2 separate regions of the Homo sapiens genome follow, and region 2 is linked to region 1. The links come from fine-mapping of genetic effects on gene expression. A gene starts in region 1. The other region holds a variant in brackets. All regions are shown on one strand. Distances are between the middles of the regions.

The links. PIP is the estimated chance that this variant, and not a neighbour inherited with it, causes the effect.
Region 2: its variant is fine-mapped to the expression of FKTN in whole blood (TOPMed, PIP above 0.99).

The regions. Positions count from the first base shown.
Region 1 is chr9:105,551,261-105,564,487 of GRCh38, reverse strand. FKTN (fukutin) reads right to left here and starts at 6,357. Exons shown (of 11, transcript NM_001079802.2): 1 at 6,323-6,357. FKTN-AS1 (FKTN antisense RNA 1) reads left to right here and starts at 6,182. Exons shown (of 3, transcript NR_184141.1): 1 at 6,182-6,718; 2 at 7,313-7,374; 3 at 10,145-10,453. FSD1L (fibronectin type III and SPRY domain containing 1 like) reads right to left here. Exons shown (of 14, transcript NM_001145313.3): 14 at 12,055-13,227. RefSeq lists enhancers at 6,097-6,286, 6,447-6,496.
Region 2 is chr9:105,596,909-105,606,174 of GRCh38, reverse strand. It overlaps FKTN (fukutin), which reads right to left. Exons shown (of 11, transcript NM_001079802.2): 5 at 4,827-5,030; 6 at 1,683-1,960. Among named protein-coding and RNA genes, the nearest start is that of FKTN-AS1, 43 kb to the right of the region's middle. The variant G/A (reference allele first, on the strand shown) is at 5,030.

The DNA of each region.
Region 1 (13,227 bases):
TTCTCGTGCTATGGTTTTCAGCTCCATCAGGTCCTTTAAGGACTTCTCTGCATTGGTTATTCTAGTTAGCCATTCGTCTAATCTTTTTTCAAGGTTTTTAACTTCTTTGTGTTGGGTTTGAACTTCCTCCTTTAGCTCGGAGAAGTTTGATCGTCTGAAGCCTTCTTCTCTCAACTTGTCGAAGTCATTCTCCATCCAGCTTTGTTCCATTGCTGGTGAGGAGCTGCGTTCCTTTGGAGGAGGAGAGGTGCTCTGATTTTTAGAATTTTCAGTTTTTCTGCTCTGTTTTTTCCCCATCTTTGTGGTTTTATCTACTTTTGGTCTTTGATGATGTTGATGTACAAATGGGTTTTGATGTGGATGTCCTTTCTGTTTGTTAGTTTTCCTTCTAACAGTCAGGACCCTCAGATGCAGGTCTGTTGGAGTTTGCTGGAGGTCCACTCCAGATCCTGTTTGCCTGGGTATCAGCAGAGGCTGCAGAACAGCGAATATTGCTGAACAGCAAATGTTGCTGCCTGATCGTTCCTCTGGAAGTTTCGTCTCAGAGGGGTACCCGGCTGTGTGAGGTGTCAGTCTGCCCCTACTGTGGGGTGCCTCCCAGTTAGGCTACTTGAGGGTCAGGGACCCACTTGAGGAGGCAGTCTGTCCGTTCTCAGATCTCAAGCTCCATGCTGGGAGAACCACTACTCTCTTCCAAGCTGTCAGACAGGAACATTTAAGTCTGCAGAGGTTTCTGCTGCCTTTTGTTTGGCTATGCCCTGCCCCCAGAGGTGAAGTCTACAGAGGCAGGCAGGCCTCCTTGAGCTGTGGTGGGCTCCACCCAGTTCGAGCTTCCCGGCCCCTCTGTTTATCTACTCAAGCCTCAGCAATGGCGGGTGCCCCCCCCCCCAGCCTCGCTGCCACGTTGCAGTTCAATCTCAGACTGCTGTGCTACAAATGAGTGAGGCTCCGTGGGCATAGGACCCTCCGAGCCAGGCGTGGGATATAATCTCCTGGTGTGCTGTTTGCTAAGACTGTCGGAAAAGCACAGTATTAGGGTGGGAGTGACCCGATTTTCCAGGTGCCATTTGTCCCCCCTTCCCTTGGCTAGGAAAGGGAATTCCCTGACCCCTTGCACTTCCCGGGTGAGGTGATGCCTTGCCCTGCTTCGGCTCACGCTCGGTGCGCTGCACCCACTGTCCTGCACCCACTGTCCGATAATCCCCAGTGAGATGAACTCAGTATCTCAGTTAGAAATGCAGAAATCACCCGTCTTCTGCGTCGCTCACGCTGGGAGCTGTAGACTGGAGCTGTTCCTATTCGGCCATCTTGGAACCCCACTGCATATTCTTTCAGCTTCCTTTTTACATTTGCATTTGTCCTTTGAAGGTATTAGTATGAAAGACTTTTGGTAACTGGTTTACCCTGACACCTCCTCCAGCCCCAGACCCCACTCTTTTGAGAATCACCTAGGTAGGGGTCTGTTTGAATGAATGAATGAATGAATGATATATCAAGAGAGATGATCCAGAAGGCAGGAGTGGGGGGAAGTGGAATCAAAAACCTTCCCTGACACCTAACTTAGGTTCATAAGATGATATGTGAGAGCCTAGCCATATCCTTATGCTGTGGGATCCCCGACTTATTTGGGGATATTGGGGAGTAAGAGTGAGGCATAGATAGTATGAATCAGAGAGTGAAACTGCCTTTGCAAAATTATGACAGCTAAGAGAAATCTCATAGTTGATTCCATCTTGTTTCTGACCTCCAATCTGTCCTTGGTCATTTCTGGGTGCAGGCCAAGCTAACTTTGAAAGGAATTTAGTTTACAGTTTAACCTAAAGCAAGGATGATAGTAACCTTTTCCAAAACTAAACTGCCTTTATAAAGGTAATGAAAGACTACAAGATTAGGATTATGAGAGGGACCTGAATTCTGGTAACATGTAGTTAAATGATAACCAGTCTTTTTTCCAGAGGACACAGGATTTATATTTTCCCTGGCTACAGAACCTAAGATTGGTCTTTTGAGATATTTTTCAGACCTTTGCATTCTGGACCAACTGACACTACCTAGAGGTGAACTAGTGACTCATGACCCAACCAGTCACGTGGCTCCCCACCCAGAGGTGGACTCAGCACACAAGGACCATTTTTCACACCCTTATCATCACATCCCCAGCCAACCAGCAGCCCTCATTCCCTAGTCCCCTGCCACCAAACTAAAAACTATCCTTGAAAAACTAACCACCAAGTCTTTGGCGAGACTGATTTGAGTAATAACTCCTTTGCACAGCCAGCATCATTGTTAAGTAAGCTGTTTCTTTACTGCAGTAGCACAGTCTCAGTGAACTGGTTTCGTTTGTGCAGCGCACAGGAAGAATCCTTCAGGCAATTCATTAAAACAGAACTGACATTCAAATATGCTCTGAACAAAATAAAACAGGAGGCTGAACTACAGAGGAAAGAGAGTAGTGTAATTAGGAAAAGGTATAGTTAGAGAGATGATGTAGCAGATTGGCAGGCATAAAGAGAAAATGCGTCTGAAAATGAATTCAGAGGTCAGACCAAAAAAAAAAAAAAATCGACATTTTTCAGCTGTTCTCAAAAGCCAAAAATATCCCAGTAGCAACAGCTACTATCAAATCTTCCCTAAATACTGTTGGTCTTTCTTATTGTCCATTTCTTTTCCTTTGACTGCTAACTTTTCACAACTGTCAGCAGCTTGGAAGTAAACATTAGACTGCAAAGGGTTAAGAAGTTTCTTTACCTGCTTACCATTCATGCACTTAATCCTTTGCAATATAACTTCTACCTACACATGCTGTTACTTGAAGATAAAAAGCTAATGAAATTTAGTTTCTCCAGTAGATGCTCCAGAAAAATCATAAATACATAGTTACTCCTTTCTGAATGACTATGGTGTAAGAGGGTTTTGGAAAGATAGTGGCTGAAATGAAAGATATAGATAAGACAGGTTAGCAGGAAGGAAGGTGAAGACAGCAAGGATTGTCTTTGGGTTGGGAGGAGTGTAGGTGCTTTTATTTTTTTTCCTTATTTATCTTACGTGAACATCAATTGATTTTGTAGTAAGAAAAAAACTAAGTTTTTTTTAAAACTTTAAAAATTCTCCTCTCATCCTAAATGAAATGACAAATATTCATTTACTAGAGCCCACATGTAATTATGTTAATGTCTCCCCATTTTTGAAGTAACACAAGTTTTTATTTTTTTAAGAAATGGAGTCTTGCTCTGTCACCCAGGCTGGAGTGCAGTGTCACAATCATAGCTCACTGCTGCCTCAAACTGCTAGGCACAAGCAATCCTCCCACCTCAGCCTCTTGGGCACCTGGAATGATTATAGGCATGAGACACTGTCCGGCTCCCAAAGTTTGTTTTTTGTTTTGTTTTTTTTTTTGTTTTTTGAGACGGATTCTTGCTCTGTTGCCAGGCTGGAGTGCAGTGGCACAATCTCAGCTCACTGCAACCTCCGCTCCCAGGTTCAAGTGATTCTCCTACCTCAGCCTCCCGAGTAGCTGGGACTACAGGCATGTGCCACCAAGCCTAGCTAATTTTTGTATTTTCAGTAGAGACAGGGTTTCATCAGGCTGGCCAGGATGGTCTTGATCTCTTGACCTCGTGATCCATCCACCTTGGCCTCCCAAAGTGCTGAGATTACAGACGTGAGCCACCGTGCCTGGCCCCCAAATTATTTTTAAGTGGCTCCCTCAAGAATGCAAGTACTTAATTGCTTGGTTCTGGACACTTGGGTATTTATCTTAATAAAATCATACAGCAAATAGAATCAAACACAGGGCTTAGAGTGTGACATGTACTTAGTGCAACACTTAAATTGTGAATGTATGTACATATGTAAAATCTGGATGAATGTTCCCAAAAATATTAATAATGGTTATCTCTGGGTAGGGAGAATTAGGAGTGATTTTTACATGGTTCTTTACACTTTTCTATATTGTTCCAATATTTGTATAAGCATATATTATTTTCATAAGAAGTAAAATTATTTTATCCTAGGAGAAACAGATGATGGGTAGTGGTAGTGGCTTAATAACGGCCATATTTGCTAAACAGGATCTAGATTCTTGTCACTTAAAAGTATGGTCCTAAGAACATCAGTATCACATTGGAGCTTGTTAGTAATACAGAATTTTCAGCCCCCACCTACTGATTCATAATCTACATTTTAATAAAATCCTCAGATGATTCATATGTACATTAAAATTTGAAAAGCACTGATGTAGATGCTAAGGGCTTTACATGCAGGGAGGATAAGAACAATGTCTACCTTGCTCGTCGTTATATCCCTAGAACCAGCAGTGCTTGAAACATATAAATATTTGTTGAATAAATAAATATGTAAATGATACCACTTCTGGGTAGACAATTAGGCAGTGGAGATTATATCTATTTGAATTATTTATTTTCTGCCAGAATTCCCAGAAGTAGGTGCTTATTATTTGCTGTAAATGCTGTTAAATTAGCTTAATAACAACACTGGGCCCCTGAGAATCTACAACTATATGTAACTTTTTTAAAAAGAACTCCTTCCTTGCTCTTAGCTCTGAGATCCACATGCCTCCTTCAATAATTTCTCCAACCTCCTCTCTGTGGGTATGGCCTATAGTTACTCTCTCTACAATCTCTCCCTGAAACCAAATCCATTCTCAAGATTTTAACTACCACCTGTGAGAGAAAACACTATTTAAATTACAGTCCATGCACTCTATCTGCCTATATTTTCAACTCTATTTCCTGCACCTCACCTCAAATTTAACATGTTCAAAATTAACTTTTTTTTTTTTTTGAGACAGAGTTTCGCTCTTGTTGCCCAGGCCGGAGTGCAGTGGCCTGATCTTGGCTCACTGCAACCTCTGCCTCCCAAGTTCAAGCGATTCTCCTGCCTCAGCCTCAGGAGTAGCTGGGATTACAGGCGCCCGCCACCACACCCGGCTAATTTGTTGTATTTTTAGTAGAGATAGGGTTTCACCATGTTGGCCAGGCTGGTTTCGAACTCCTTGGCCTCAGGTGATCCACCCGCCTCAGCCTCCCAAAGTGCTGGGATTACAGGCGTGAGCCACCGCGTCCAGCCCCAAAATTAACAATTTTATTCTCTGTCAACTATCGTCCTCTCCCAGTCCAGAAGAAAGTAACTAGCTCTCCATCCTCACAGTCTCTAGTTTTACAGGCTTTAGAGAAGAGAGATCAGCTGGCCCAACATCACCTTATGGAGAATAGGCTCTAGAAGAATTAAATGACAGCCAAGAGGCTAGTTATTGGCAACCTCAGCACTCTACGATCTAAATCACTTTATTCCCAGTACACTATTGCATGCTGGAATTCAACAGAATTCCCATTTTTGCCAACAGCACTTAAACTTACTTTTTAGAAACGCAGGTTAAAAATATCATCACCCAGATCCAAGAAATCAAGTCCTGCGTATTGTTCTTTCGGCATTTCCCCGGTTCCTTTCTTCTTCCTTGTCAGAACACCCTGCACTTCCTTTCCACTAAGAGTTCTTTCACCGTTCAATGCCAGCCTTCCCAAATCCTCTACCCTCACTAAACTTATGTCCACAAATAGAATCGCTAAAATATAAATGCTTATTCCTGCATTTGATATCTTTGTCCATGGCCCAACAGAGATGGTTTCCAATCGTTCAAACCCTATTTATCCTCAGAGTCTAGCTCAAACACAGCCTTTTCTACTGGGCTTCCATCTGCCCAATTTCTAATATACTGCTCTATCATTCACTTTGTCATTTGTTCACAGCTTGATTTTTACCGACTGGAAACGTGCTATCTTCAAAAGCATAAAGAATCTGATATATCATCTAGGTCCTTTTTTTTTTTTTTCCACATCTGACAAAACTGAAGCCAAGAGAAATGTGGCTTACCTCATGTTAAATGAGAAATTGTAAATTTCAGGCCGGGCGCGGTGGCTCACGGCTGTAATCTCAGCACTTTGAGAGGCCAACGCGGGCGGATAACCTGAGGTCAGGGGTCACTACCCTAACCCGGCTACTACAAGAGTCTCGATCGTCCTCCAACCTTTCATCTGTCCCAGGATTAAGATTTCACCTGATGACACGCCCAGAAGTGCGGGAAGGACTGGCCAAGTGGAAGTCTACCACGCGATGCTCGTGGACTGACTGAGGAGTACCCAGCCCGGAGCGCGCTCAGCCTGTGGCCGGCCTCCTCACCAAGGGGTAGGCAGGTGCCCAGAATGCTGGAGGATGCCCGGTAAGGGCACCCGAGTCGCCAGCGGTACCTGTCTGAAGGCGCCCACCCATCCCCGGGTACCGACCTGAGCCTCCCGTACCTTACCTCACTCAACAGCAGGCTGCAGCCGCTCCGCTTTACGGCACTCACAGCAACCGCCGCAAAAGCCGCCGTCAAGTGCTGAGCGGCGGAGGCTGGCTTGGTTCCTGCTGGGACGTTCCCACGGTCCAGCCCCAGCCTCGGCTTTCCTGTGACTCTTGTCGCATCCTCACCGCCAGAAGTTCACTGAGCCCTGGCGATTCCTCGCTTTTATAATCTAGCCACTTAGCCAAAGCCCTTTTTTATCTCTTGCCTAATTGACAACTACAGCAGCGCACTGAGGCAATCTGAGAGTTTAAGTTCTGAAACGCTTTCGACAGCGGAAGATGAACTGGAGGCAGCAGCTGAGCCGTTTTCCAAGCCCGTTAAATGTGAACTTCTGATAAACGAGTGGTTTTTTTAGTGCGTGTGCTTTGCTAGAGGGATTCAGCATAACTCCCTGAAGTTTGGTTTGGATACAATTAGTAGAGCTAGGGGATAGAGTGGAAAATAGCAGCTGCGTTCACTATTCCTCATGAAGTTGAGGTGCCTTTATGACATTCAAGATTTAGCGACCTGTTGCCCTCCAGTTTAAGGCTGGATACAATTTTGTACCTGATTAACTTTTTTCTTTTCTTTTTTTGTAGAGACGTTGGGGGCTAGCAGGGCGGGGTGTGGCGGGGGTGGGGGGGAGGGCGTCCTCACCATCTTGCCCAGGCTGGTCTCGAACTCTTGGCCTCAAGCGATCCTCTCACTTTGGTTCTTTTAACGGTGTAATCCAAAAGGTGGTTGTTAAGGCTCAGATATTAATCTTCTTATAAATTTTTGAAAACCATAATTCACTAAACCAGTTACTGTAATTATAATTTATTTCTACAAAACGGAAAATACTCCCATCATATATTTGTTTTCTAAGCTTTGTTTTTAATTCTATCAGTACAGAAAGAAAAGGAAGAAAAAATCTTCCTCACTTCCTACAGGTTATGACATTTACCAACTTTTTGTTTTTCCTTCCAGAAATTTCCTATGCACATACAAGCTTACTGTTGAAGTCCTCTCATCCAATGCACTCAGAACGGGTAGGTACTCAGTAGGTTAATAAAAAAAAGTGGAAGGTTACACCAAGAGGAAGTAAGTTATCAAAGCTTAATGGCATCATTAACACAGGTGCTAACGTGATGGGACATGGGAAAACTTGAGCATCACATACTTGCTATTGATTGAAACACATCAAATATAAAAATTCTTGAGTTTATAATGACTCCTTAAAAAATAAAATTCAGTCGTGATTGAAGATTGCCAAGTTGAAGATTAAATATTCTAAAACTTGATAAGGGAAAACATCAAGCATTTATCCTGCCTTTCTTGTATGAATTGAATTTTAGTGTAACCAAAGTACTTATAAGAGTTCCAGCTAATAAATGGAGGATGATAAAACAATCACGATTTTGTAACTCCTAATAAAATAATCGAAAGGGCAACATCAATAGATGATAAAATTAAGGTGAAAGGTTGATGGGGAACTTTATAATAGACTGGCATCACCTAAACCCACTGATCTTAATCTCACTAAATTTGGGACAAGCATATATTATGTACTTCCTGATGTGATAGAAAGTACACAGCCACACCTGTGAAGGATTCTTGCCTAAAAATTGAACCTGCATTTACTCAAACTCTAGATCTAATACAGGATATAGAGAAGCAACTAAATTCAGAAAACGGGACATTCTACCAGACAAATTCCTCAGTTTTTTTCATAAATGGCATTTAAAAGCAGAGGGAACTATTGTAAAATCAAATATTTAAGAGATGTAACGGAGTACAATGTGTGGACCCTGTCTAGATCTTGATTTGAACAAGATAACTGTAAAAAGATACTTCTGAGACAACTGAAATTTTAGTATGGACTGATCCATTAGATAATAGTACAGAATTACTGTTAATTTTGCTAAGAATGTTAACAGAATGTGGCTGTTTTTAAAAGCCATCATGGATGCATATAGCATACTTACAGGTGACATTTTAAAACAAAATAGATAGCACAAACATGGCAAAATGTTAACAATTGATTAGGTGATGAGCACAAAGCACTGGCTTTCTACTTTTCTGTATATTTGGAAATTATAATTAAAAGTAACAGGAAAAGGGAAAAATTATCAGGTTCTTAGAAATAAATACTTTCCAAGTGTATAACAAATCTAGTTCTGAATAAACCTTCTCAAAAAGGCAGTTTCAGTAGAGGGTTACAATGGCCAATCTTCTGTTTTGAACTAAGTTCATTTTAAGCATGGACCAGCTGATTAGAGTATCTCACTGTTTTTCTTACAAAACCATAGACATAATGCATCATCCATCATTTGTAGTTTCTGTTTCTGTAAAATGGACCAGGAACTTAAAGATACAAGTGAAGGAATATAAATTTGGAGTCCTGGAATTTATTTTTAAAAATCTTCCCCTATCACTCACAATTACTTTGGCCACAACTAACTTTGCAACTTTTTAAACTCTTCATCTCTAATGGTTCTCGTACTTTTCTTATAAGTACCTTTTCATACTCATTTCATATTTATTTTGGTTTATATATTTATATAATTGGTTTACATACTTACATGACTACAACAGTGACTACCACCTACATAAGCAGGTTTGGGAACAAACATAACTGAAGGTAAATATACAACTAAACTGGTGGCAGTGTTACTTATCAAGCATACTGAAAGGTCAAATGTGAGCCCTCAGCTCATGGCAAACGTCAAGTCAGTATGCTTTAATCTGGATAGCAAATACAGCTGAAAGAGTGGGTACAAGGATGCATAAAAACAGCCTCTCTTACAAGTAAATATTCATGTTCTATAAACCACTCAGCTGTGCACACATGTAAGGATCCTGGCCGACTCCTAACATTTGTAGGGTCTGGGCCAAGAATACAAATGAAAGCCAACCCTGACATATTTTCAGTGTCTAAATAGCTGAGCGTTAACCAACAAATAAAATGTTATACTCTTCTACTTTAACATGTATTCTCAAGGAACAGAAATCTAGGTTCAAATATGCGATTCGCAGATTCTTCAGAAGTGTACTAGAAAGTGATACTAGGTTGGCCTGCCCTTCCCTGATCCCCTGGGTCTCTTTTTACTTCTAGCTTAAGCCTGCCACAGGGGCCTATCATGCATGCATGTGGACAACTCAGTCTGCACATCCAAGCTTCATCTGTACTTCCCACAAACTGCCAGCCATAGGGGTATATACATCTGTAGTAGTCTTTTTTCAGGATGGATTTGGACAAAAGGCCTGCACATATCCTGGAAGCAAGCTTCAGGCTGATGAGGCAAGGAATCCTGGGGTTCTGGCTGATAACATAGTATAGAATTCTGTGGGTAAAGGAACATGGATTCCAAGTAGGCATAGTCCCTTGGCTCCTCAATTTTTCATCCCATGAAGAGAGGCACAGCAAGAGTGTGGGGATCCGGTTAGTTAGCTTACCTTAGGTAGGTAACAAGAGAAGGGTCCTGGAGAGCCCCTGGCTCATGAGTCAGTGCCTTATCCCCAGATAATATAAAAAGCAGCCTGGGAAAAAAGCTGCAGGCACCAATAAGGGAACTAGCACAGGGTGTTGTGCCTGGAGACATGCCCATGACTGCACAGATGGAAAAACCTACGGCCCATTTGGATAAAAACTTGCACAAACCTCCAGCTCACTCAGATAAGGGAACAAGGCCTGGCATAGAAATGCCTTGGTCCTTTGTATTGTCAGCAGGTTCCCAGGAAAAGTTTATTCCCCTTTTGTAGGCATGGGCACAGTGGGCTCTGGTAAGTTCCTATGGGCGCTCTACTTTCCTTTGTTAGGACTGTAAGTCCAGCTGCTGTGTATCATCACCTCAGCCCGATTGGTCCTCGGCCACACTTCACTTCAGCTTCTGATAGGTCCTGGGCCAAGCTAAGCAGCATCTATGAATCATTTCACCTCCTGACTGGTCCCGGGCCAAGCCGAGTCACGCATTCGCCAAGACAGCCCCCAGACTAAGCACATTCCTTCCCCTTCCGTCCATAAAAACCTGGACCCCAGCCTCATGATGGGCACTCCCGTTCGGGACCCCCTCTCTGCTGGCAGAGAGCTTTCTTCTTTCACCTTATTAAACTTTCACTCTAACCTCACCTTTGTGTCCGTGCTCCATAATCGTCTTGGAGGTGGGACAAGAACTCCAGGTGTTATCTCAGACAACGAAAGACTGTTTCAATAATGTAGTATATAAGTGGACAAGAACTCCAGGTGTTATCTCAGACAACGAAAGACTGTTTCAATAATATAGTATATAAGTGGGTAATGAAACATGCATTCCAAGTAGGCATAATCCCTTGGCTCCTCAATTTTTCATCCCATGAAGAGAAGCACAGCAAGACTGTGTGGTGATCAGGTCAGGGTCCCCTCTTACCCAAGTATACATGCATGCACACACCCGTTGTATCGTACTGTATATATTGCTGGATGACTTTTTTGTTTAATATCATGAATACACTTCCATTAACAGCATATCCTTTAACAGCTGTGTAGGATCACATGGAAATACCAAAATCTAACCATCTGCTCTTGTGCTGACCTTGTGCAAAAATAAATAAATACAAATACACCATGCAGTGTAAGTGTAAAATGGGGTTTAGTAGAAAAGTAGAGTGCACATAATATCCTGAGCTCTTATGCCACAGAACTCCCAGCCAGGCACAAATGAACTGGTATACCAAGGAAAAGGCTCTAATTAAGCCAATTGTCATAATGGTCTATATAACATTTATTGGGGAGGGGAATGTGCAGAATATATAATATCTAGACCACTACTTATATGGTAGTTTGCTGGTGCAGCAAGTTAGAAAAGGGGAGCCTTCAAAATTCTGTTATCACATTCTTTTGTTGAGGCAACTTGGGCCTTTTGAACCAGTTCTGTGCCTTGCTACCAAAAAAGGAAAAGGAATTTACCTCCAAGTCCATCCAAATTTGTAGGTCTTCAATTAATAATTAGGTTGCTACTATTAGCTATGGTAATGCTGCAAGGAACATTGGCTTTTTTGTGAGTATATATGTAAGAGAAATACTTATAAAGGAAATTAAGGAGCATGTGCATTTAAAAATCTTAATATTGCTAAAATTGTTCTCCAGAAATGCTGCACCCATTCACTCTCCATCTTCTATAGTGGTTTATCAATCTTTGTCCATTCTTCTTCCTGTGACTCAAGACTATCCAGTCTCCTTTCATTCTTCTTACATAACTTCTTAGTTACAGGCGCTCCAGTCTCACTGATTTTTTTTCTTTTAAACTGTTTTCAAGTTAGAGCAAGAATTTTAAAAATGTTTAGGTTCTGATTCTGACTCTTAGTTACCATCTACCAAAATGTAACCCAACATGTAGCAAGATCCAAAGAAACCAAATTCATAAGTAATATTATAGTTACTAACATAGCATGTTTCATTTTCCATCTGTAGGTACACTGTTCAAAACAGTGGCTATTAGCAATATGCAACTCTATGTAGCCACATATAAAGTGCTCAGTAGCTGCCTATGGCCAGTCACTACTGTATTGGACTGCACAAATAACTTTTCATAATTGCATAAAATTCTGTTGAACAGTAGTGCTCTAAAATGTTAAGCTTTTTAGGCAAAGGAACTATGACTTTTTTTATATTCTCATCCCCAACAGCATATTGTATTTATACTTAAATAAAAGTTAATAAAATCAAACAATGAAGCAAAAGAGAGCAGGAAAAGAGTTTTTAAATTTTTAATGAGATATTCCAGGTGCTTCTGTAAAATCTTAACTGGGACATTCTATATAGAACACAAAATCATTTCAAAATACACGTTACTCCACTTTGAATACCCTATTTTAAAGTGAAAAAAAAACATTTTAAAAAGGCTTTGTCTTGTTTCTAAGGAAAATGAGGCCATGTGCTTCTTAAAACACTATTGTATGGCACTGAGTGCATCATAAGTATCATTAAAGGTCTTCAGCCATAACTTAAAAGGCCAAACCTGAGGAATTAGAATTTTTATTATCACAACTGCATAGCAAAATCATGTCCAGATAATAGACATACTAAATCTGTAGATTCAGATAACCTGTAAACCATTTAATCCAATTTAAAGCAAAACAAATATGTCAGGAGAGATACCAAGAGATAACCAGGTTAACAAGATTTTGAAATGCTTCATCTTTTTTTAAAAATGATAATGCAACAAAGTTGTCAAATGTTCAGTGGTTACATTTTATATCATTTATCCGTGACAACAAGCTGCCCAGCCATTTGGTTGTTTGGAAAGAACTGTTTAGACCAAATACACTCTTTGCATGTGGCACTGGGCAGCCCTAACTTCAAAGTGCAAATGCCTGCATGGAAATGTAGCTTAATTCATTTATTTATGCCACTATTCTACACTGACACAACAATGCTGTGCAAGAGCTTTTACAGCTCTAGAGTAATAGGCTTGAGAAAATACAAAAAGGCCACAAGTCATGCACAAATTAAATGAATATTAAAGAACATTTTAATTGGGGTTTTATTTTTTTAAAATCATGTTAGAAATCACTGGTGATACCACTTTAAGCACACGCTTTATCAAAGTAAATGCATCTACAATTATCCAAACACTTAAATCCATTATTAGCTAAAAACAACACTTTACATTTACGTAGCACTTTGCTGTTGCTGAAGCAATTTCACATACTCCATTTCATTTTATTTCCTCACAACAGCCCTGTGAGGCAGGCTGAACAACTTACACTTATTTTATAAAGAAGGCAATAGAGACCCAAAGATGATAAACAATTTGTGTAGCGGTCACAGATCTAGTATATGGTAGAGCTAAGGTGATTAATTTTAAATACTTCAAAAAAGAAGCCAAAATCCTTTTTATGTCATATCCAGGGATTTTTAAGAC
Region 2 (9,266 bases), 44 kb before region 1:
TCTAGTCTTTTTTGGTACGTCTTGCTTAGCCTTCTTAATACTTTTACTATAAGGGTATACATCCATGAACATAATTTAGCATGTGTTTGAACTTTTTATAAAAGTAATAATAGAATTTACTTTCACTTTTGTATTTTCAATTTTTGTAGGTACATAGTAGGTGTGTATACTTATGGGTTACATGCAATATTTTGATACAAGCATGCAATGCATAATAATCACATCAGAGTAAATGGGGTATCTATCACCTCAAGCATTTATCCTTTGTATTAAACAATCCAAGTATACTTTTAGTTATTTTAAAATGTACAATTATTTTTTACTATAGTCACCTTGTTGTCCTAGCAAATACTCAGTCTTATTCATTATTTCTAACTATTTTTTTGTACCCATTAACCATCCCCCTCTTCCCCTCTTTCTCCCACTATGCTTCCTAGCCTCTGATAACCATCATTCTACTCTCTATCTCCATGAGTTCAGTTATTTTCATTTTTCACTCCCACAAATAAGTGAGAACATGGAAAGTTTGTCTTTCTGTGCCTGGCTTATTTCACTTAATATAATGATCTCCAGTTCTATCCATGTTGTTGCAAATGACAGGATCTCATTCTTTTTTATGGCTGAATAGTACTCCATTGTGTGTATGTACCACATTTTCTTTTGGCTATATTGTTAGTTATCAACAGTGGTTATATTATTCCTAATATTAACTTAAATACAGTTTCCAAACTTACTGATTTTGAAATGCTGAAGTAATACGGTATTTTAAAGATTAGTTCATAATTTATCTAAATGTTTCTAGAGAGGTTTAATTTCAAAGTGGGAAAATAAATTAGTCTTACCACACAATTTGTTCTTTATATTAAAATAAAGACAGCAAAAATCAATATACTGTCTTATAATCCATATTATTTCTGTTCAAAAAGTTATGGTCTCAGCCTTTAAAGGATAGTTCACTTAAACTTTTTTGGTATGATTATGAAGCTGTGTATACATATATATCATTGTTTATTAATGAATAAAAGAAACTTTTGAATGGAAAAAAATAATAATAATAATAGAATTTAGATTCTTTTGTGCCTTGTGTCATTCAGCATTGTAGGATTCATCCACAATGTGCACAGACCCCTAGTTTATTTTTCCCTGCTGTGTAATACTTCATTGTATGAACACATATATCAAAAATTATTTATTCCTTTACAGTTTTTTTTTTTTTTTTGAGACAAAGTCCTGCTCTGTTGCCCAGCCTAGAGTGTGGTATCACAATCTCGGCTCACTACAACCTCCACCTCCAGGGCTCAAGCAATTCTCCTTCCTCAGCCTCCCCAGTAGCTGGGATTACAGGCACCCACCACAATGCATGGATAATTTTTGTATTTTTTTGTAGAGACGAGGTTTCACCATGTTGGCCAGGCTGGTCTCGAACTCCTGACCTCAGGTGATCTGCCCACCTCGGCCTCCCAAAGTGCTGGGATTACATGCATGAGCCACAGTGCCCAGCCAATCCTTTTATTGTTGAAGGACATTTGGGTGGCTTCTAATTTGGAGTCATTAAGAATAATGTTACTGTAAATACTTATATAAATTATATATTAGATTTCAATACTCAAATGTAAAAACACTGCAAGAATTATGACTGAACAACACTCATTTCACATTTCACGTTTTGACTCTGAACTTACCTGTCAAAAGCTCCTGGATAACGACCAAACTGTAACTTTCGGAAGGGAACAAATTTCCTGTCAATGTGTTCTTTAAGTCTCAAGTGGCCGTGCCAGAGGTAGTTGCCACTCCTCTCATGAAAGACTACCAAGTGGATCGCATGAGTGGCCAGTTTGCAGATATAGTGCAGGGGGATTTCAGTTCCAGAGAGTGAGTCTATCCCGTCTAGCCGGGGATCTTTACTCTCAATCTTTAGGCACTGAAATCCCATATTCTCAGCTATCCGAAACCAGCCTTCCTAGAACCAAAGAAGCATCAAACATCAAGAAACAACACTTAAACATTGAATATTTAAAGCCAAATACTAGTAGCAAAACTAAAGTGATTCTTATATTGAACTTGAGCCATATTTTTGTGCTAATCTGCTCTGTAAGAACATTTTTTAATGAGGGTGATGGGCAGAAGGTAGTGGTGGGAGAATAAAGGAAAGCAGCAAAAATACAAAGTATGTAGCAGGAAAGATATAGCCAAAGACTCTCTTTATAGGTTGGGCACCATAGCTCACCCCTGTAATCCCAGCGCTTTGGGAGGCTGAGGCAGGTGGATCACTTGAGCTCAGGAGTTTGAGACCAGCCTGGGCAACCTGTCTCTACAAAAAATACAAACAAAAATTTGCCAAGGTGTGGTGGCATGTACCTGTAGTCCCAGCTACTTGGGGGTCTGAGCCAGGAGGATCACTTGAACCTGAGAGATCAAGGCTGCAGTGAGCCAAGATTGTGCCACTGCACTCAAGCCTGGGTGACAAAGTGAGACCCTGTCTCAAAAAAAAAAAACAAAAAAAACTCTATGAAAATTAATACAAATCCCTTCCTTGGAATGAGAATGCTCATGTTAGTGTTTTCCAGTTAGTTTCTATAAAGTAAATGTTGATTTAAGGACAGCACTTAAAATTAAACTTGTAATTCTTAATTTAACTTTTAATAACCTTTATCTTCAAAAGTACTTCAAAAAAGTAGTTCTTTCATCTCATAGTTTACATCCCAACATCTTAAAATACTACCATAATAGAACACCATCATAATGCAAATCATTAGAAATTAACAAACATACTGTAAGACAAGGTTCATTTTCCAACATCATTTGTTTCATTATCAACTGTAACATTCCCTTCTTCCCTTTTCTTTCTTGGTACACCTTAGAAGTAGAAAGCACTGACTGAGGGGGAGGGTAGCCAATTCAGAGAAAGACACTACTGAATAGAATAAAAGAAAGGCATTATCAGCTGACAAATTCAGGAAATATTTAAAAGGCCGGCCAGAACTTGAGAAGAACGTGACCTTGGGTTATAGGAGGAAAGACTGACAGACAAAATAGGCAGAATTATGATATGGTTTGCTTTCTTATAACCATCAACAAGAGAAGTAAAGAACAAAATAGTTGCTCTGATCAATTGGTGTAAAGGCCTAGGTCAAGGTTTTGCTAGAAAAGTCCACTCCCAGTAGCCTTGGCAGAGGTTTGCTCACTTTATGGTAATGGCATTAATAAAGAAAAATCACATGCAAATGGAGTCTTTCATTATTAGATCTAACAATCTGATTAGCTCCACATTGGGGGATGTTTTAGGGGGGACTATCCAAGGGCTCTTGAATCTCTTGAATAGTAGGATGTCATATGTACAAAAGGAGAAACTTTTGGGAGGCTGAGGCAGGTGGATCATTTGAGGTCAGGAGTTCAAGACCAGCCTGGCCAATATGGTGAAACCCCGTCCCTACTAAAAAAAAATACAAAAATCAGTCACACGTGGTGGCACACGCCTGTAATCCCAGCTACTCAGGAGGCTGAGGCAGGAGAATCCCTTGAGCCTGGGAGGCGGAGATTGCAGTGAACAGAGATTGCACCACTGCACTCCAGCCTGGGTGACACAGCGAGACTCCGTCTCAAAAAACAAAAACAAAAACAAAAAACCCAACACAAACAAACAAAAACAAACGAAGAATAAACTTGAACCCATGTGCTGATTCTGGGTATGGCTGAGCTTTTGCTTCTTCCTCTTGACTATGGTAGTATCAGTTTTGCCAATGGTGGCATACTCCCCTTCTTCTAAAATAGTGGTTCTCAAGGCAAGTGGGACTGTACCCAACAGATACTTCAGAAATTTGGGGGGATATTTTTGGTTTATCATAATGACAAACTGGCATTTAGAGTCCTAGGCCAAGAACATTAGATATCCTACAATCCAAAATATGAAAATCTATCCTGTGTACTATGTAATTTCAAATGTCCTGTCACATAATCACATAGTGAAAAACTTGTTTATAATTGTCTGAGCTTTTATTTCTCAGGAATACAATAGTCATGTCAATGAAGAGACAATTTTACTTTTTTTGTTGTTGGAAACTTGCTCACTATTTTGGAAAATCATATTGCCAACAACAATATCATTCATAGTATGGGTTTATATTTGTAGCTACCACATTCTGTGATCCTACTTCTAAATACAAGCATCTGAATTACTTTATTATGTCTTCCAGTGTAGTCATTCTGGAGCATCTGCACACAGCAATACATATCATTTCCTTTTATTTCTAGGTTATATTATAGTTAATACATTATATTGATTTGGGGAATTATGTATATAGGAGGGTTATAATTTCTATGAACTTCATTTGGGGAATATAAAGGGACATTATAAAATATTCTTTGTAAAAATAAGCCTTGTAGGCTTTTTCTATGAGATATCAAACAGTTCAACAGAAATGACCTAAAAATACCGATATTGAGAAGTTTCCCCCAGCAAAAAAGCAGAATCTTTCCTCTCATCTTCCTGTTGTGAACATGGATGTGATATGTGGAGCTACGACAGCTATCCTGTGATAATGAGGTAAATGAATAAAGAATTTCAGAGACACAAGTCCTGACATCAGTGGCTAGCTAAACTAATATCAATAGCCACTAACCTTTTAACCTCTCATTATATAAGAAAAAGAAATCCCCTATTTGCCTTAGTGATTAGTTGTATTGTTATTTATAGCTGAAAATATTCCTGATACAATTTATAAAGTGTTTCAGGAAAAATTTTTAATGTTTTACATTTTAAACTAGCCTAAACCTATACTATTTTGTAAAAAGAGACACATTCCATTATCTGAAAGCAAGTCACTTACCTCATTCTTCCATAGGTGATACTGCAGTGCAAATGCAGTAAAGTCTCTTGGAACACAGAAAAACTTGCATTGTGAAGTAGAGCCATGAGAAGTATTTTTGACTTGTTCAAAGTTCTTATTAATCAATTCCAGTATCAAAGGATCAATAAGAAACACTGGTACATTTTGGTTGGATGTTAACATAATAAATTTTTTAACTGCAC[G/A]CTGTTTGAGAGAAAAAGAATTCTCGTAATTCCAGTAAGCCAACACAACAGTCTATTTTATAACATTTTAATTCATTAATTGTATAAGAATGCAGAGTAGTTACCCAATAGATACCATGCTTATCATTGTGCTAAAAAATACAAATGATTAAATAGCACATATGGTCTCTGCTCTCAATAAGCAGTCTTCTAAGAAAGATGAACATTTTCAATATAAGGTGAAATATGCTACAAGAAAAACATATACAACATATTATAAAAGTACAGACCAGTAAGCTACAAATTTACCATACATCAAAAGGATAAGAAATTTCACAGAGGAAGTGGTATCTGACATGAAAATGTGGTGCTTAAAAAATTATTCTCTTAGTATTAGCTAAATCTTTTCAAGCAAAATTGAGAGAACTATCCGTCAGCTTTTAAAAATCAGTCTTGTTAATCTTTCAAAAACAAAATTCAGTTGTTTGTACCATTTTTCTTCATATCTGTAATGCTGCTTAATAATCTTTCTAAGCAAAAGACTCAGACCAAAATACACTGCCTGCTTGATGACTGCCATATATAATGTGCTTTTCTAATACTGCAATATTTCAAAATATAACTCTGCTGGGTAGTAAGTAGGGTCCCCTACTGAAAAAAACAAAAATTCAACAGTAGAATGAAAATGGACTAAATCACACTTAGGAATAAGTAATATCTAAGAACAGCAAGGATAAACAGAATATCTGGCATACACTATTGCTTAAAAGCCTACTTCAATGAAAGCAAGACTTATAGGAATGTTTGCCTATCAAAAAGGTGCTTCATGAAATTAAGAATAAATTCTTATTCAGAAAATCTGAAGGAACTCATAAAAATATATACAAGATAAATAAATAGACAAAATATCAATTGTAAGGATAAAGGATGAGATAAAGCTAAGAATCAGTCTCATTATTTGTTTTTAGTGTAGAGTATTATGCAAATGCCAAGAATACAATAATCTCTGCCTTATAGGGGTTTATTACCTCAGTGTGAGAAACAGCTAAGTAAAAAGTTAGGATAAACAATGTTACACCAAAAAATTCAACTTAGATGACACAAATTTCTTTAAAAATACAATTTAACAAAACTGCCACAAGATGAAACAAAATCTGAATTGCCCTATACCTATTAAAGAAACTGAATTTGTTAGGAAAAAAAAAAACTGCCCTCAAAACAACAAGGAAAAACTTCAGACTTAGACAGTTCACTGGTGAATTCTATCATTTTTAAGGAAGAATACCAATTCTACAAAAACTTTCTGAGAAAATGGAGCAGGAGAAAATACTTCCTATCTGATTTTAAGAGGCCAGTGCCATACTCAACAGCAAAACTTCTCACGCCTGTAATCCCAGCACTGTGGGAGGTCAAGGCAGGTGGATCACCTGAGGTCAGGAGTTCAGGACCAGCCTGGCCAACATGGTGAAACCCTGTCTCTACTAAAAATACAAAAATTAGCCGGGCGTGGTGGTGTGTGCCTGTAGTCCCAGCAACTCAGGAGGCTGAGGCAGGAGAATCACTTGAACCCGGGAGGTGGAGGTTGCAGTGAGCCGAGATCACAAGGTGGAGGTTGCAGTGAGCCGAGATCACATGGCTGCACTCCAGCCTGGGCGACAGAGAGACTTCATCTCAAAAAAAAAAAAAAAAAAGCAAAACCTGACAAAGACCTTACAAAAAAAAGTATAGTCCACCATCCCTCATGAACACAGATGCAAAAATACTTAATAAAATATTAGAAAATCAATTCCAGTAACTAAAAAAAGATAAAAAAGGAAAGTAAATATCATGACCAAGTAGTATTTATCCTAGGAATGAAAGCTTACTTTAGCATTTGAAAATCAATCAATAAAATTTGACAAATCAACAGAAAAAAGTGAAAAACTATGATAATTTCAATATAGAAAAAAGCATTTGACAAAATTCAGTATCTATTCATGATTTAAAACTTTCAGCAAACCAGGAATAAAATACATCCTCAACTTGATGAAAGGCATGAACAAAAAATCTATTACTGAGTCGTGTGGGAGTTCTTCATATATCTTTGATACCATTCCTTTGTGAGATACATGTTTTACAAATATTTGCTACTCTGTGGCATGCTTATTCATTTTCTTAATAGTGTTTTTTGATGACTAGAAGTTTAAAATTTTAATAGTCCAATTTAGCTATTTTGTGTGTGTGTGTGTGTGTGTCTTTTAGGGTTATTACTTTCTGTGCTTTATACTAGGAAAAAAACAAGAAAGAAATGGTTTTGGAAGAAAGATGAGATAACAGAACTACTACATAAAAGGTACTTTAATGTTTGTTGAATGGATCTCAGGTTGGTGTTAAATACAAATATGATGAACACACTTATAGCTTCATTACCATTATTAATATAAATACAGATTAGGTCAGGGTCAAGCAGAGATTCTATAACTCACCTTCTAAACACATCCTCCAAGTTGTTATCAATACAATCATTAACGCTCCTTGGAAACGTGTCCAGTTGATTCTAAATCCAATTAATTCTAAATCACTATTATCATCTGACCTTCAGTAACTCATTTTGTTTATAAGACTGAAAAACATCTTGTTGAAAAGAGATTATGCTGAGACCATAATAGCCCATTCATCTGCCTGTGTATTAAAATTTTATTAAAACCTAAAAAGTCTTGGCAGGACTTGTTCTTAGTAAAAGCCTAGTTCCTAATTATGATCATTTTCTTTTCTAAGTGCTCCCAAGTCATCTGTTTAATAACTCCATAAACATTGAGCCCTAGAATTTTACCAGGGCTCAATATCACACTATTGATGAGATTTCACCTTTTATTCCTTCTAAAAGTTTAGAAGTATGTTAGTACTTCTCCTTTCCTGTGATTTTGCAAATATAGTCATTCAGTGACCACATTTACAATTTTTTTTAGTCCCCTCAATGTAAAAGAGTATAAAGAGAACTCACTGAATGTGGTAAGCTGCTCTTCAACTTTTTGCTTGCGTACCGTGGAAGTAAAGACTTTGAAAAAAATCCATTATTTTCTCCCACCTCAAGGATCATTTCTTGAATGAAAAGGATAGAGTCACGCTACTTTTTTCTATTATTTTAAGCTTTAAATTTTTCACAAATTCCATTTTAAAATGTATCAGTGAACCTGTACTTTCTCTGACTGCTCTCTCTATTTACTAAAAGGTTTGGGAATGTTGTCAGAATGTTGTTGGTTAATACCGATAAAGGAAAACCTTTTATCCAACTGAAGCTACTACGGCTTTAAATTTTTTGCTGAAATTGCTTTACAGTGTACAGATGAAGACTCCTAATAAATGGCAAATCTGAAAAATATATGTTTCTCTAAGTATCATCACATCTTATAATGTTAAAATGTATGAAAGATCACCCCTGTTGCCTTTGGCTGTTAAAATACTGAATTTTAAATCTCAGCAAATTACTTCAACCACAAGATGATAAATCAGGTCCAAGTATTAGGTGTATGTGTTTCCTAAGGGTGGGATGGAGGTAGAGAAGTGTTACAGAGAAGCATACAAAATACCTCTTTTTAATTTAATCTAAAATCTTTATAACTGTGACTGGGTAGTATAACTTCCAAGTATATCATGCTTACCTTTATCCTCAGAATACCCTAAATTCACAGAGCAAAACAATTGCTATTTTTAATAAATTAAAAGTTTACATTGACACTTATAGACTAGAGAGCTGGGGAGCCTGATAATAGGATATCCCAGACTTTACTTTTAAACAGTAGTTCAAAATCTACTTGGTGTTAGCAATGATCTAAAATGACCACTGCTTGGTGATCTGAAAATCCACTTCTAATTTAAAGTGTTCCACATCTCTAGTTATAGAGAAGCCAAAGATTGAAGTGTATCAAGAAATATCTGGTCATTCCCATAATGTATGCTAACAGAATAAATGTTGTGTTTTATTAGTAACCCAGCAATGTTTTTCTTTCTAAATTTAGTTTTAAAACATAGGAAAATATATTTTATCAATGTGTAGGTTCTGAAATTTCTAAAACAAAACAAGGATATATTGTATATATTGCTGGTTTCCCCTCATCTTATAAAGGAATAGGTTGAATAGATTTTTATTCCTGATCATTACTTTTCCCTTATTCAAATAAATCTGATTCATATATTCATTCATTTAGGGAAACACCATAGCTCAGTGAATGTGGGTTTTAGAGGCAGACAGAATCTGGTCTTACCAAATTATCAGCCA